Homo sapiens: one gene and its partners. The gene in region 3 interacts genetically with the main gene of each other region. Each region holds a gene or a part of one and is shown on either strand. Other genes may lie near its edges.

Region 1 (3,500 bases), on a different chromosome or scaffold from region 3:
GTCCTTTCAGGGACAAGGATGAAGCTGAAAACCATCATTCTCAGCAAACTATCACAAAAACAGAAAACCAAACACTGCATGTTCTCACTCACAAGTGGGAGTTGAACAATGAGAACACATGGACACAGGGAGGGGAACATCATGCACCAGGGCCTGTCAGGGGTGGGGGGCTGGGGGAAGCATAACATTAGGAGAAATACCTAATGTAGGTTATGGGTTGATGGTTGCAGCAAACCACCATGGCACGTGTATACCTACGTAACAAACCTACACATTCTTCACATGTACCCTAGAACTTAAAAGTATAATTTACAAACAAACAAACAAACAAACCCCCGAGGTATTGGTACAACTGCATTCTCTCTTGGGACTTTAGAGGAGAATCTGTTCCTTGCTTTTTCTAGCTTGTAGAAGCTTCCCACATTTCTTGGCTCATGGCTCCATGTCACTTGAGTCTACTTCCGTTGTTACATCCCGTTCTCTGACTCGGACCCTTCTGCCTCTTTCTTCTAAGGATCCTCATGATTACATTGGCCCACATGGCCCCTCCCTCACCTCAAAAAAGATATCTAATTATAATCAAATAAGTCTGCATGTAAAATTTATTTTTTCTCGCCTTAGAGGTAGTCTTCTTTTTTTGTAAAAAATAAAATGTCATTTGAATCAGACGTTTGAAGTAGGATTCCTAATAAATGATTAGTTGCGTGCTAATAGTGGCAGACAATTATTACATCAAATATAACAGAAGTTATAAAATCTGTCCCCAAAATGAATTCTAAATGATTGGATCCAGAATTATTAATACTCAATTGTTAAAAAACAGTTACAGGAACTAAGCTCATCTTTTAATTGTATTATATGGAAGATTATATCTAAATAATATAACTTTCATTTACATACAGTTTTAGAATGCACAAAACATGTTCACTCACATCTTCGCATTTATTGTATATCAGGCAGGTATGCTTAGGACATTTCAATTTTAAAGAGGAGGGGAGATTTTGTTTATATTAAGTGATATCCTTTTTCTGCCAAATGAGGATATTTCCCAACCTATAACTTCAAGTTATAACCTAACAAATAAATACATAAAAGTATGTGAAATACCATATATAAACAAAAATAAACAACAACAAATTACAAATTAGTCCAACAGTATTTAGCAAATAGCCTAATGTATGCTCTGATAAGTATGAGAACAAGCACTGGAGGCAATGGCAGCCAAAGCATATAAAAATGAAAGGATTTAGCAAAGTGGTCAGAAATGAGAAGGCAATCTAGAGAAAAGGTATCACAAAAGAAAAGTATGAAGCTGAAGTGAGGCATAGCCTATGAAGAAAAAAAAAAGCAAAGAATATGCTTAAGCATCAGAATTAGATTGGTGATTAACTCATAAATGAGTAACAATGAAAAGACAGGGCTTCCTTTGTGTTTACAAGGTACATACCTGCGTGGTAGCACCTATCAGTTATTGTTGATTTGCCTGTCCATCTCTTTGGTTACAGGAAGAACTCCTACAGAGCAGGGCAGCAACTTGCAGAGTTCTACTCACACTTTGCACTGAACAGCTCATTTTAGCACTAGAGGGTTCTAACCACCTTCCCTGACATCTTCTCTTTAACAGCATGAGTAATTCCCTTCATGCCACTGTCTCTGTCAGGCTTAGGTTTCCTTGCCTACAAAATGAGGAGGTTGAAAAGGATTCATATTCTAGGTCTAAAATACTGTGATAAACATATCTTCTGGTTATGTAGAGTAAAGCAGTACATGTCTTGTAATTCCATGTTGTCCATAAAGACTTCCAGGTGCTCTGGGACCTCAATTTTTCTGGCAAATAGAGAAAGTATTATTCTTTGGCATGTTTTCCACTTATTGCTGTGCTTTTTTTTTCTGATTTGGTTAGTCCTATATTAACAAGTAAATATATCCTAAATTTTCTACTATAATTTCACACTAGCTTGCAAATGTTTTTCTTGAATAATATAACGTATTATTTCATAGAAGTAATAACTTATCAATAGTTGACTCATTAATTGTTTTGGGATCATCATGGGCAAAATAAATATGTCCTCTCCCATAAATAAACTTATGACTTATTTTTTACCACCTTTTATCGTAATTACACACAGATGTCTTTTTCTACCCCTTTGAAGGCAGAAACTATTTGAACATCAGTGGTGCCCAGGAGAACACTTTGGATGTAATAGGTACTTGATGAGTATTTGTCAAATAAATAATGATTATGTTGATTATTAATGGAAAAGAAATTAGAAGAATATGAAAGCAAGAGTGCATGAATATTGCATATGGTAATGAAAATGTCTTGTCATATTTTACAAATTGCATTTTTTAAGAAAATCCACCTAGAGTTGTTGTCTTAATTTTCTTAGATCACTCCTTCCCTCATTATTAATATGCACAAAGAGGTTAAGTCTTAGTGTTAGAAATACTGAAGCCTTCCATTCAATCAAGCATAACTCTGACAATCTTTTCCATGATGCATACAGGCTTAAGAAAAGCAGATAGTGTTCTCTTAGCATATAAAGAGAGCAACATAAATTAGAGCATGGATGATAAGGTAACAAACTGAAGAAAGTTTCTGTTTTTCACTACACTAATTTTAACAATTTATGGCAAAGAAATCACACTACTCACCATCAACTAAATTCATTTAAAAACAAAGTTTATGTGTAAAAATAACCCCAAATAACTGAAGAGAAATGTTTACATTACCATTCTGAGTTGTTAAAGCCAAGAAAAAGAAAAAAGAGGAAGGAGTTAATGGAACCCACAGGCTACTGATGTGGCAGTTTATCAAATGTAGCTGTAATGAAAGATAAATAATACAGGCAATTCACACTTCATGAAAGGATAAAAGTGTCGGTGTGTAGGTACCAGTTTTACTGCAGGCCATAATCAGCAAGTAAACGAAAGTGCAATGTCTAAAAAGTTTATAGCCTTCTATGAAGGCCTCGTCTTGTCAGGTATTGATTTAGATATTCAGATAACTTCACTGGTATTAAACAAATTGAGTGTTTGTGAACTTAGAAGACATGTTCTATTTTTCCCAACAAAAGTTGCCTCAAGCTTAATGTTCAGTTGCTTCCATCACTTAAATTTATGGGAAAAAAAGAAAATGCTGAAATGATATCTTACACAATTATTTTCTTCTTAAATAGAGGGCAATCCAAAGTGAAAGTTTCATACTCTCCACCTTCTCCACAAACATGTACTCCATACTTCTTAGAAAGCTGAAAATAGGAAAACACAAAAAACAAGAAAGAAGTTTAAAATTAGACAGCATAAATGCTCTCTTATCTGGTACTAAAAAATCCATACAAAAAACTTTAATTCCAAAATAGTTTGCAAGGTAAGGAAAATTAATTATATTTCTGCTTAAAACCTGTTTAAAGCCATTTCAAAAATGTTATCATAAGGCATAGGATCCCCAAGAATGCCAAAACTCTTAAAAAAAAATAACATTAAGAGGCCAGGCGCGT
Region 2 (4,260 bases), on a different chromosome or scaffold from region 3:
AAGGAGGAACTGAATACTGAGCCCTGCCCCTCATTTTGTCCAACTAGAACATCAGAATGTGGCCCTATTTGGAAATAAGGTCGTTACGGAAATAATTAGGTAAAATGACGTTATATTTGATTAGGGTGGGCTCTAGATCCAATGACAAATCATGAGAGAGACACGAAGAGGACCATGAGATGACAGCAACAGATTGGAGTAATGCAGCTACAAGCCAAGGAACACTAAGGATTACTGACAACCACCAGAAGACAGGAAGAGGCAAGGTAGGATTCTTAAGTGCCTCCAGCGCCAAGAGTAATTTTCTGCTTAGTTTATATGAACTTGTTACAGTAGGCTCCAGGAAACTAAAACAAATGGCAGTTCCTATCTGCAAGAAAGAGATCAAGGGTTGGCTTCACCGTGGCTCATGCCTATATGCCTGTAATCCCAGCACTTTAGGAGGCTGAGGCTGGAGGATCACTGAGCCCAGGAGTTCAAGACCAGCCTGGACAACACAGCAAGATCCAGATTAGCCAGATGTGGTGGTGCACACCTGTAGCCCCAACTACTTGGAAAGTTGAGGTAGGAGGATTGACTTGAGCCCTGGAGGTCGAGGCTGCAGTGAAGAGTGATTCCGCCACTCCAGCCTGGGCGACAGTCTCAAAAAATAAATGTGGCTGGGTGCAGTGGCTCACGCCTATAATCCCAGCACTTTGGGAGGCTGAGGTGGGTGGATCACCTGAGGTCAGAAGTTTAAGACCAGTTTGACCAACATGGTGAAACCCCATCTCTTCTAAAAATACAAAAATTAGCTGGGCGTGTGCCTGTAATCTCAGCTACTTGGGAGGCTGAGGTTGCAGTGAGATAAGATTGCACCATTGCACTCCGGCCTGGGTGACGGGGTGAGACTCTGTCTCGGGATAAATAAATAAACATGACCAAGGGTCAAATTATTAGGTTGATTCAGAAGAGAGCAGGGTCTTTCAAATTTATTAATTAAATGACGAGGTTTCACCATGTTGACCAGGCTGGTCTCGAACTCCTGACCTCAGGGGATCCGCCCACTTCAGCCTCCGAGTGAGCCACTGCACTAAGCCTCAAATTTAATTATATGTTTACAAGTGAAAAGATTTACTTCAAAATGGGTGTGGGAAGAGATATAGATGAAATAAGATTTCTAATTTTTAGTTAGATACATCCATGAAGGTTATTCTCTATTACACTTATGAATGCTGCACCTCTACTTAAGCCTCACAGCCGGTCTCTGAAATAAGTACAGTATTTCACACTGCCTTATTAGTTTCACAGAGCACCCAACAGAAGGAATTTCCCTCTACAAATTCCTCAACAGAGCCAACAGTATCCCTACTACTATCCATTCCCTAACGTCGCCTAAGTACCTACCATGCAACAGAAGCCAAGAAGACAGGCCTAGCCCTGCACGCATGGACACATACTGGTAGGCTATTTCCACAACTAACTACACATTCTGACTTAAGGGAAAAAAAAAGAACGTTATGTATCTAGAAAGCCAAGAATTCATTAGGTTTGTGGAGAGAAATACTCAAGTGAAATAATATTCTTGCATTCATTGATTCGATTCTTAAAAGCCAAAGAAAGATGGATGTACTCCTTCACACTTCGACAGGAAAGGAGTGTCAATTATGGCTCATCTGAGTAAATGTCCCACTCAGACTTCTTCCACCCTCCATCTACAGGCTTCTTCACACTTTTTATCTGTTGGTATTTCTACTTATCCCTCAAGATGCCCAATAATCCTCCAATTCTCAGGGAATATAAATTTCGCAGGAAGGGTTGCTGTTATGATGGTGGGATGGGTAAAGAAACCGAATCTAGAAGAAATCTCACAAGCTCGTGGTTCAGGAAAATCTTAGCGAATTCGGGTGAGCAACCATACCTCCTCCCCACTTCCCCAGGTGAAATGTTTTGGCTTGACCTTAGACCACTATCTTGGCTTTAATCACTTATTTTCTGTGGTAAATGCTAAAGGGGTCAGTCTCTCCCTAAACCACTTTCTTTTCTTAATCCAGCAGTCAAGGTGATCTGGATGAGACTCAAGTCTCCCCAGCCTTGCTTCATTTTTGCTTATGTCTTCACAACCCAATTCTCATTTACATTCCCTATTCCTTACCCTACTTCACTTACCTTAATGGCAGTGATGGCAAAGGCTATTTTCCGCCGCCCATCGATGTTGGTGTTGAGTACTCGCAAAATATGCTGGAACTTTTCAGGGATCACTAGAGACTAGTTGAAAAAGTACGGGGGAAGAAATCAGACACAGTAAACTATCAAACAGTAAGGCCGATAAGGCAAACGAACTTCATACAAAAAGGTTAAGCCTGTCACACAAGTGGCAAGACACCCGCCCCCCATTCCTTAGGTTTTCACACCACAGAGCAAACTCCTCAGTCCTGCAGAGTAGGCACATGAAGCGTTCAAGCTTGGGAAAATGCAACCTCTGGAGAGAGGAAGCAGGTCTCCTGCCCATTCCCAAAAGTGCGTGGCAAAAGCCAGAGTTCCCCATATACGCCCAAGCCTTAGACAGCTTTCGTGCGCCCGAGCAGTGACCCTTCCTCGGGCCCGCTCTCCGGAATTGGAAATCTTTGGTGTCCCTTTCCAGGGACGCGATCCAAGGCTCCATACAGAAAGTCGCAGGCCCTCAGGGCAGGACGTTTCCAGAACCCTGACAGCCGGCTTTCCTTGCCCGAGCTGCGATGCCGCTGGATCACGGCACGGATTCCAGTCTTACCATGGCTGCAGCACAAGCGGCGGCGTGTAGGCCTCCTGTGGAAGAGAGAGCGGAAGTGACGCGATATCATTATATAGCTTCCAGGAGGAAGAGGCGGTGCGATCTAGGAGAAGTGCTTCCGGAAACTGTTTCAGCGCGACCTGGCTGGATTTATGAGAGTATGGCTTGGGTACCACAACTTCCGGTGCGCCTTTCTTTACAGTTCGTAAGGTTCATAGGTAAGAGAACAGCGAAGGTTCCGGGGCTAGTTTGTGTTTCAGACTTCCATATTTCCATTTGCAGTTGGGTGAAGTGGTTAGAGCTGAAAGGGGACAGCTGGAGTCAAACAACTTAACTCAAATATCTGGGAACGATTTCGCGCTGAGGAAGACCCTTTGGGACTTGTAGCTCCACTCCGGGGAACGGACTCGCCGGGACTGACAGTTGCCGGAAGTGAGGCTGCGGGGAATGGCCGCCGCTGCGACCATGGCGGCTGCGGCCCGGGAACTGGTGTTGCGGGCTGGGACCTCAGATATGGAGGAGGAAGAGGGCCCGCTGGTGAGAGCGCGGAGCTGTTTCTCCTCCGTAGTTCCGGTGCTCCTAGCTTCAGAAAGACCTGAGCTGGGTTTAGGCACAAGGGTGGGAACTTGGCTGCTACCCGTGATATTACCTGTTTGGCTCCCCGTACCCTTCCCTGTGATCAGACCCGACCCTGAGCGGGACCCTAGTGGCTGAAACTCATGTTCTGGGGCACAAAATTTCAACTTCACTCCACATTTTGGGGTAGAGTCACGAAGTAGTATAGTGTAAAGGTTAAGAACATGGCCTCTGAAGCCAGACTGCCTGAGTTCTATCTCTGCCACTTACACGCTGTGTGCCCTTGGGCAAGTTAACCAGCTTCTCTGTGCCATCATTTCTCACACCTTTAAGGTGAGGAAGATAGAACCTATTGTATACATCGTCGTTAGGATTAGATGAATATGTGTAAGATTGCACCTGGCATGCAGGTAAACACTATGTGTTTTGACATTTCTAGAAAGCCTGGGGTTCCCCAGAGGTGTGATAGAACACCCAAGATGGCAGGAGTCTGAGGGTCTTAAATTTAAGTGCAAGTTCTGCTCTATCCTCTGCAATTCCTAGCTTTCCTCATTCGGTCATCTCCACTGCACTTTTTTTTTTTTTTTTTTTTTTTTGAGACGGAGTCTTGCTCTGTCGCCCAGGCTGGAGTGCAGTGGCGCGATCTTGGCTCACTGCAAGCTCCACCTTCCGGGTTCACGCCATTCTCCTGCCTCAACCTCCCAAGTAGCTGGGACTACAGGCGCCCGCCACCGCGCCCGGCTAATTTTTTGTATTTTTTAGTAGAGACGGGGTTTCACTGTGTTAGCCAGGATGGTCTCGATCTCCTGACCTCGTGATCTTCCCACCTCGGCCTCCCAAAGTGCTGGGATTACAGGCGTGAGCCACTGCGTCCGGCCTCCACTGCACTGTCTTGTCTTTTACCTTTTTTTGTTTTCTTTAGACGGGTTTCC
Region 3 (3,844 bases):
GCTGGTCCACCACCTGCAGCCGCCCATCCAACAGCGCTGGGATCTCAGGGTTGGGGCTATGGAAGTGCAGGTTGGGGGCCCAGAGCCCGTGCTCCAGGGACAGCAGCACCTGCGGGGGTACGTGGTGGATGGGCAGCCGCCCCACTCCCTCTACCACTGCCTGAGCTGGGGGCAGGCACCTCCCCGAGACTCTCATGTGGGGCCAGGGTTCCAGGGCCCTCTCCGATGCACTTCCTGTCCCCAACCTAATTCTGCCATGGCACAGGGGTCCGAGGACTGAGCCGCCATGGCCCTGCCCTCAGCTTGGTCCAAGACCTCCCCTTCCGGCCTTGCTGCCTCCCAGCCTGATGTGGACCCACCAAAGCCTGGCTGTGGCCTGAACACTAAGGCCCCCTTGGCCCAGATGTTGCATCTCAGAGGCTGCAGAAGTTGGGGGGCAGAGGGCGTGAGTGATCATGGGTGTTGGGGCTCCTGTGCCTGGTCTCTCTAAAGGTCCCCAGGCCTCTGCTAGTGGGTCAGGAAGCTGTAGGGACGGGTGGGCGACACGGGAGACCCTGATGGTGCCGTGGACCCCCCCAGGCCTGCTCCTGCCTCGCTCTTCCCACCCAAGCGGCTCCTCCAGCTCGGCTCCGTGTCCGGCAGACGCTCTGCAGGGCATCAGGCCTCCAGGGAAGGCCCAGCGAGCCTGGCTACGAGCTCTCCCTGCTGTCAGCCTCAGTGCCTCTGCTCAGACCTGCAGCATAGCCCGGGGGACAGAGGCTCCTGGTGGGGAAGCCCCCGCCTCCACTTGGCAAAGAGAAAGCAGCAGTGCCCAGCCATGGCGCAACCCAGTCCCAGGGAGCAGGAGCCTGAGGGACCCCCAAGCCCAGCCCCACCTACCTTGGCCAGGGCTGCCAGCCCCGAGGCTGGCTCCGGGTGCCCCATGTTGGACTTGGTGGAGCCGATGAGCAGCGGCTCCTGGCGGGTGGCGCACAGGGCTCGGGTGATGCCATTCAGCTCCTGGGGGTCGCCCACCTGTGGGAAACATGGGGGGTGAGGGGCTCTGGCCAGGTCACCTCTCCAGGCATGGGCGTAGGTTAGGCTCATGGGGTGGTGAGTGGGGCGGGGGGGGGGGGCATCACCTTGGTGCCTGTGCCGTGGGCTTCGATGTATTCAAATGACTCAGGGGCCACTCCGGCCGACTGGTACAACGAGCGGATGAGCTGCTCCTGGATATCCCCTGAGGGGAAGGTCACGCCTGCGGAGGGCTCGGCTCAGTGCTGCAGCCCCAGCCCCGGCTCCCACCTGCCCCCCAGCACCCCGGAACCCCGGCAGAGCCCACCTTGCTCCTTGAAGCCATCTGTATTGGTGCCGGCGTTCAGGATGGTGGCGTACACCCGCCGGGCCAGGGACTTCTTGGTCAGCAGGACGGCCACCACACCCTCCGAGCGGCAGTACCCATTCCCTGGGTAGAGCAGCACCTCAGGCCCGGGGCTCAGCCCCACGCCGGCCCCCACCCCACCAGGAGGAGCTCTGGGGTGTGGGGTGGGTGCTTGGGTGGGGGATCCCCGGAGCTGGCAGGATCCTGCTCAGCGTGGGGACTGTGCGGGGGGCCGTCCTGTGCCACTGTCCCGCCTGCCCTGGCCGCGCAGCCGCACACTCACCCGCTGTGTCGAAGGCCTTGCAGGTGCCCTCGGGGCTGAGCATCCCCAGCCTCAAGAACTGCACGGAGGTGTTGGGCTTCAGCAGGACATTGATGCCCCCCACGATGGCGGCAGGGCACTGCCCGCTGTGGATGGCCTGGTAGGCGTTCTGCAGGGCCATCAGGCTGGAGGAGCAGGCTGTGTCCAGTGCGATGCTGGGCCCTGCAAGGAAGGGTGCTGCGGCTCAGGTGGGGCTGTGAGCACACGAGACCCCTGAGCACACCTCCTGCCACCAGGCTGGACACACACTGCACGGAGTGAGCCCACGCCACGTGGTTTCTGCTCAGCATGTGGGGACCTGAAGGCCACCCACCTCCGCAGGAGGCTGGGCAGGACCCACCTCTGAAGTCGAAGAAGAAGGAGAGCCGGTTGGCCATCATCGCTCGCTGGCAGCCCACCATGCTGTAGCCCACGAGTGTCTCGGGGTCTCGGCTCAGGGCCTCCGAGGTCTCAGAGCCGCTCACGCCCACCCAGACGCCAGTGTGTGTTCCTCGGAGTGAATCTGGGTTGATGCCTGCCACAAACAGTGGTCAAGGTGCCACGGCCGGGCCCCACAGCGCAGCCAGCCCACCCACCCACCCGGCTCTGGGGCGAAGGTCCCATCTTGGCCTCACTGGCTTGGGGTGAGGGGGGGTCCATCCCAGTGGGACCCTGGAAGGGGCCTAAGGAGGGTGAGGTGTCCTGCAGAGGGGCCAGAACAGAGCCTGTGGCCAGCAGCCAGCCCAGGTGAGGCCTGGAACAGGAACCAGGTCACAGAGGGAACGAGGCGGAGGGGGCAGGCGGGCCCAGGGGAGGGCACCAGGCACGGCCAGAGTGGCTCCAGGAAGGACAGAGGGCAGCATTGTCCCCAGGCGACGCCTTTGGCCCCTGGTGTCACCGGCAGCTCTGATGAGCCCGTCGGCCAGTGGCCTCTCCAGCGCCAAGGGCAGCCTGCACCAGAACAGGCCGTGATAAGGAACCGAGGAGACAAAGGCCAAGTGTCCAGGCTCGGGAAGGAGAGAGGGACACCGGTCACCCCCGGGGAGCATAACCTTAGTCTTGGGGTGGGGTCTGGCAGCAGGAAGGGCGCAGGAGAAGGGCTTCCACCTCTCGGCCAGCAGGGCCCCTCCTCGCCCCTGGTGGGCTGGCTCTGCCCTAGGGTGGGTGGGTGTGTGAACCGCTCACACCCAAGGGCAGCCCAGGGCTCAGCCTCCCCCTCAGGAGGTCCTTCTCCGCCCGGGGAGGGAGCACCTGGATCTTAAGAAATGGCATGGCTGGGCGTGGTGGCTCATGCCTGTAATCCCAGCACTTTGGGAAGCTGAGATGGATGGATCACGAGGTCAAGAGATCGAGACCATCCTGGCAAACATGGTGAAACCCCATCTCTACTAAAAATACAAAAATTAGCCGGGCGTGGTGGTGGGCGCCTGTAGTCCCGGCCACTCAGGAGACTGAGGCAGGAGAATGGTGTGAACCCAGGAGGCAGAGCTTGCAGTGAGCTGAGATCGCGCCACTGCACTCCAACCTGGTGACAGAGTGAGACTCCGTCTTAAAAATAAATAAATAAATAAAAATAAAAATAAAAAAACGGCGTGGCGCTTGTCCGAGGTCAAATGCCAGTCAGAGCGAGGGCCAGGCTGGCGGGAGAGGGTTGAAATGCCTGGGGTGGGGGGACGTGGGCAAGGGTAGTGGGGAGGGTGGGAGGGGAGAGACAGCAGGGCCGGTGCTGTCCGCTGCTTGGCTGGTGGGGGTGGGGGCCTGGAGGGCCCCTCAAGAACCTCCTGCTTTGCCTCTCGTCACTCCAGCCCCGGCCCCGGCCCCAGCACCAGCCAGACATCAGAAGCGAGGAGACTGGTACGCTCAGGTCAGGGCACACCCGCGACACCTCTGGGGTGCAGTTGGGAAACTGCGGCCTACCCCGTGGCCCACACCTCCCTGAGCCCGTTGGCCAGGCCAGGGGCACAGCCGGGGAGGGTAGGTGGTGCCAGCACCTGGTTCTACCAGAACCAAGAAGAGAAAACACTGCCTATTCCACGTGAGCAGCAGGAGCCCTCGGCGCAGCAGTCGCGAATGCCCGACCCACCTCCGTCCACGATGGCTTCATAGGTGACTTCCAGCAGCAGCCGCAGCTGAGGGTCCATCGTGTGTGCCTGCTTGGGGTGGACTCCGAAGAAGGAGGCATC
Region 4 (2,982 bases), on a different chromosome or scaffold from region 3:
TCAGAACTGTTTTGCTGCAGCTCAGCCAATGGCCAGTGGCTGGCTCCTTTTGCTGTTTTTGCTGTCATACCCCCCACCCTGTCCCTCCATTGTGCCTGGGGGCCCACAGTGGGTGCTGCCCCCCATGTGCACCTGTTGGGGGCCAGGGTCAGCCCTCAGTGCCTTCCACGTGCCACTCGCAGGTGACATACCAGCTGAAGATCCTGACCACAGCGCTGTTCTCCGTGCTCATGCTGAATCGCAGCCTTTCCCGGCTGCAGTGGGCCTCCCTGCTGCTCCTCTTCACTGGCGTCGCCATTGTCCAGGCACAGCAAGCCGGTGGGGGAGGCCCACGGCCACTGGATCAGAACCCTGGGGCAGGCCTGGCAGCCGTCGTGGCCTCCTGTCTCTCCTCCGGCTTCGCAGGTGTCTACTTTGAGAAGATCCTCAAAGGCAGCTCAGGCTCCGTGTGGCTGCGCAACCTGCAACTGGGCCTCTTCGGCACAGCACTGGGCCTGGTGGGGCTCTGGTGGGCTGAGGGTACCGCCGTGGCCACCCGTGGTTTCTTTTTTGGGTACACACCTGCTGTCTGGGGCGTGGTGCTCAACCAGGCCTTCGGCGGGCTACTGGTGGCTGTGGTTGTCAAGTACGCTGACAATATCCTCAAGGGCTTTGCCACCTCCCTGTCCATTGTGCTGTCCACTGTTGCCTCCATTCGCCTCTTTGGCTTCCACGTGGACCCATTATTTGCCCTTGGCGCTGGACTCGTCATTGGTGCTGTCTACCTCTACAGCCTTCCCCGAGGTGCAGCCAAAGCCATAGCCTCTGCCTCTGCCTCCGCCTCCGGGCCCTGCGTTCACCAGCAGCCTCCCGGGCAGCCACCACCACCGCAGCTGTCTTCCCACCGTGGAGACCTCATCACGGAGCCCTTTCTGCCAAAGTCAGTGCTGGTGAAGTGAGGGCTGGCAGCAATGGGGGGACACAAGGGAGGGGGACTGGGGTGGAGGGTGTTGGGCATCTGCAGGACCCAAGTCGCCACCCTCCGGGGCCTGGCTCCTCTGGGTTTGGGAGATGGTCTTTTCTCCCAGGTCACTGAGACTTCTGGAGGGGTGTGGGACTAGAGCTGGGTGTCACGTGAACCCTTCCTGGTAGGGTGACCCCCTTCCCCTGGAGGGGGTTTTAGAGCTGCCGCCTCTGCTCCCTCTAACCTCTTTGGAGGCAGGGTTGGGGGTATTGTCATTCAAGGCCTTTTTTTTGTCTGCTCCCTCCCCGACCCTGTGCCCTCTTCTGGAGGTTTCTCGTCTGGGAGAGTCCCTCCCAGCAGTCCCTCCACCTCCATAAGGACACACTGGACAAAACTCCCGCAGCTCTTCAGGAATGACCGATGCCTACCTGTGGGGTTCAGTTGCCCATAGTTTGAGGCCTTCTCTCCTCCCTTACCACCGCTCTGGATCATGTTACTAGTTCCGTCTTTTGTGTGGCCTTGGGCCAGCTTCCTTGATACCTTGAAGATGGGCTTCTTGTGAGTCCCCAGGGAGAAAGGGACAAGAGCTAAGATTTTTGCATCAGCCCTTCTGGCAGAAGGTGTGGTAGGGGCCATTTGTTTTTTTTAGTGGACTTGGGATTTGTGGTGTAATCATATCATTAATGATCCAGGGTGTGGGAAAAATGGAGGTCCTTGAAGTGGCTGAATCTCATTGTATTTAAGACACTGTCAGTTGCCAGATGTAGGCTTATTTTTGGAGATGTCTAGGAGAGGAAAAAGCTACCAATCATACTCTTGATATCCGTCTGGCTGTGTGAGGCACCCCTACCTCATGGGGGTGTCTTGGGATTGATGAACTGTGGAACCTGCCTCCTGCGCTCCCCAAAGCTTATTAACCCCTTAACTGTATCGGGGCGGGGTGTGTGTGTGCATGGAAGATGCCTGGGCTGTCTTTGCTATATGTAAATAGAGCCATTGGATCTTTATTTTTGATTAATTTGTTCTGATTTTTTGGTTTGTTTTTTAAGGAACTGTAATGAACAAATGTCAGGATATCCAATGCCAAATAAAGATGTTGTATTTATTTAGTCCACGTGTAGCTTTCTGACCAGGTGGGCACCATTACTAACCCCAGGACTACCAGCCTCACCACCGCCGCCCTCACTTGCTCAGGAAACCCGCCTGCCAGCCTAGCCCAGCTTTGTGTTTTTCTTTCCTCCCCATTCCCACCACAGGTTGCTCACCAAGGTGAAGGGTTCCTAGCCGCTGGGATTGAAGACATTGGCCTGGCCTCGTTCTCTCTTCTTGCCCTTGGCCCAGCTGGGACCAAACTCTGATCAGTATTAGGGGTAGAGTGAGGTAGACACTGGACTCCCTGTCCCCACCACCCCTGCCCCACCCAGGGCCAACATGACTAAGCTCTCTCATGACCCACCTCAGCTCAGCCCCCCAGCCCCTGCCAGCTCCACACTATCTCTTAGCTGAGTTTTTGCAAATAAAATGTGTTGTGTATCTTGCCGACTTGGGTTGGGCAGCCTCAAAGGAAGCACTCAGGTATGGTGGGCAGGATCACCAGAAAGCTTTTATTTTAACCCAGGGCCAGGGAGGCCGAAGCTTCAATCCTGCTGCTTGGTTCGGGAGGCCTCTGCATTGGCCCGGAGCACAGCCCCTGGGGATGGATACGGCCGCTGCTGGAAGAGGGGCCCAGCTGCTGTGGTGTCAGCGCCAGTCTTGGCCTCATTCCGCTTGGGGAGTCCTGTTGACCACGTGCCCCTGCCGGTGAAAGAGTCAGGGGATGGGGATGGGTGATGTGGCGGACACAGCCCACCTGGTCCCAATGAGGAATGGAGGAAGGAGGCCGGAGGATGGTGTCCACGTACTGAGTCAAGAGGGGTTGTCACTTACCGGGGGGCGTCTGAGTATGAGCTAGGGTCCATGGGGTCTAACTCTTCATCCTTTCGGCTTACTGCTGTGGAAGTGGCAGGGCAAAGTCTTCAATAGAGGCACCAGGATCCCCT

What was found.
Region 1: changes in FASN (region 3) and DPH6 together harm fitness less than expected from each alone (positive genetic interaction), as found in Homo sapiens cells (one large-scale study listed by BioGRID).
Region 2: changes in FASN (region 3) and RPS18 together harm fitness less than expected from each alone (positive genetic interaction), as found in Homo sapiens cells (one large-scale study listed by BioGRID).
Region 4: changes in FASN (region 3) and SLC35A2 together harm fitness more than expected from each alone (negative genetic interaction), as found in Homo sapiens cells (one large-scale study listed by BioGRID).

What each region holds. Positions count from the first base shown.
Region 1 is NC_000015.10:35,378,666-35,382,165, forward strand, and holds part of DPH6 (diphthine--ammonia ligase), read right to left. Parts: intron 3,252-3,500; coding exon 3,157-3,251; intron 1-3,156. UniProt on the Homo sapiens protein: Amidase that may catalyze the last step of diphthamide biosynthesis using ammonium and ATP. Diphthamide biosynthesis consists in the conversion of an L-histidine residue in the translation elongation factor (EEF2) to diphthamide.
Region 2 is NC_000006.12:33,270,615-33,274,874, reverse strand, and holds the start of RPS18 (small ribosomal subunit protein uS13), read right to left. Parts: upstream 2,801-4,260; 5' UTR 2,756-2,800; coding exon 2,753-2,755; intron 2,248-2,752; coding exon 2,149-2,247; intron 1-2,148. Other genes in the region: VPS52 (vacuolar protein sorting-associated protein 52 homolog), read left to right, coding at 3,200-3,289. UniProt on the Homo sapiens protein: Component of the small ribosomal subunit. The ribosome is a large ribonucleoprotein complex responsible for the synthesis of proteins in the cell.
Region 3 is NC_000017.11:82,091,576-82,095,419, forward strand, and holds part of FASN (fatty acid synthase), read right to left. Parts: coding exon 3,745-3,844; intron 2,197-3,744; coding exon 2,023-2,196; intron 1,845-2,022; coding exon 1,644-1,844; intron 1,445-1,643; coding exon 1,322-1,444; intron 1,238-1,321; coding exon 1,122-1,237; intron 1,015-1,121; coding exon 880-1,014; intron 110-879; coding exon 1-109. UniProt on the Homo sapiens protein: Fatty acid synthetase is a multifunctional enzyme that catalyzes the de novo biosynthesis of long-chain saturated fatty acids starting from acetyl-CoA and malonyl-CoA in the presence of NADPH.
Region 4 is NC_000023.11:48,902,683-48,905,664, reverse strand, and holds the end of SLC35A2 (UDP-galactose translocator), read left to right. Parts: intron 1-182; coding exon 183-919; coding exon of another isoform or gene 920-1,075; exon of another isoform or gene 1,076-2,199; coding exon 2,200-2,227; coding exon of another isoform or gene 2,228-2,301; 3' UTR 2,302-2,482; downstream 2,483-2,982. Other genes in the region: PQBP1 (polyglutamine-binding protein 1), read right to left, coding at 2,581-2,737, 2,870-2,933. UniProt on the Homo sapiens protein: Transports uridine diphosphate galactose (UDP-galactose) from the cytosol into the Golgi apparatus, functioning as an antiporter that exchanges UDP-galactose for UMP.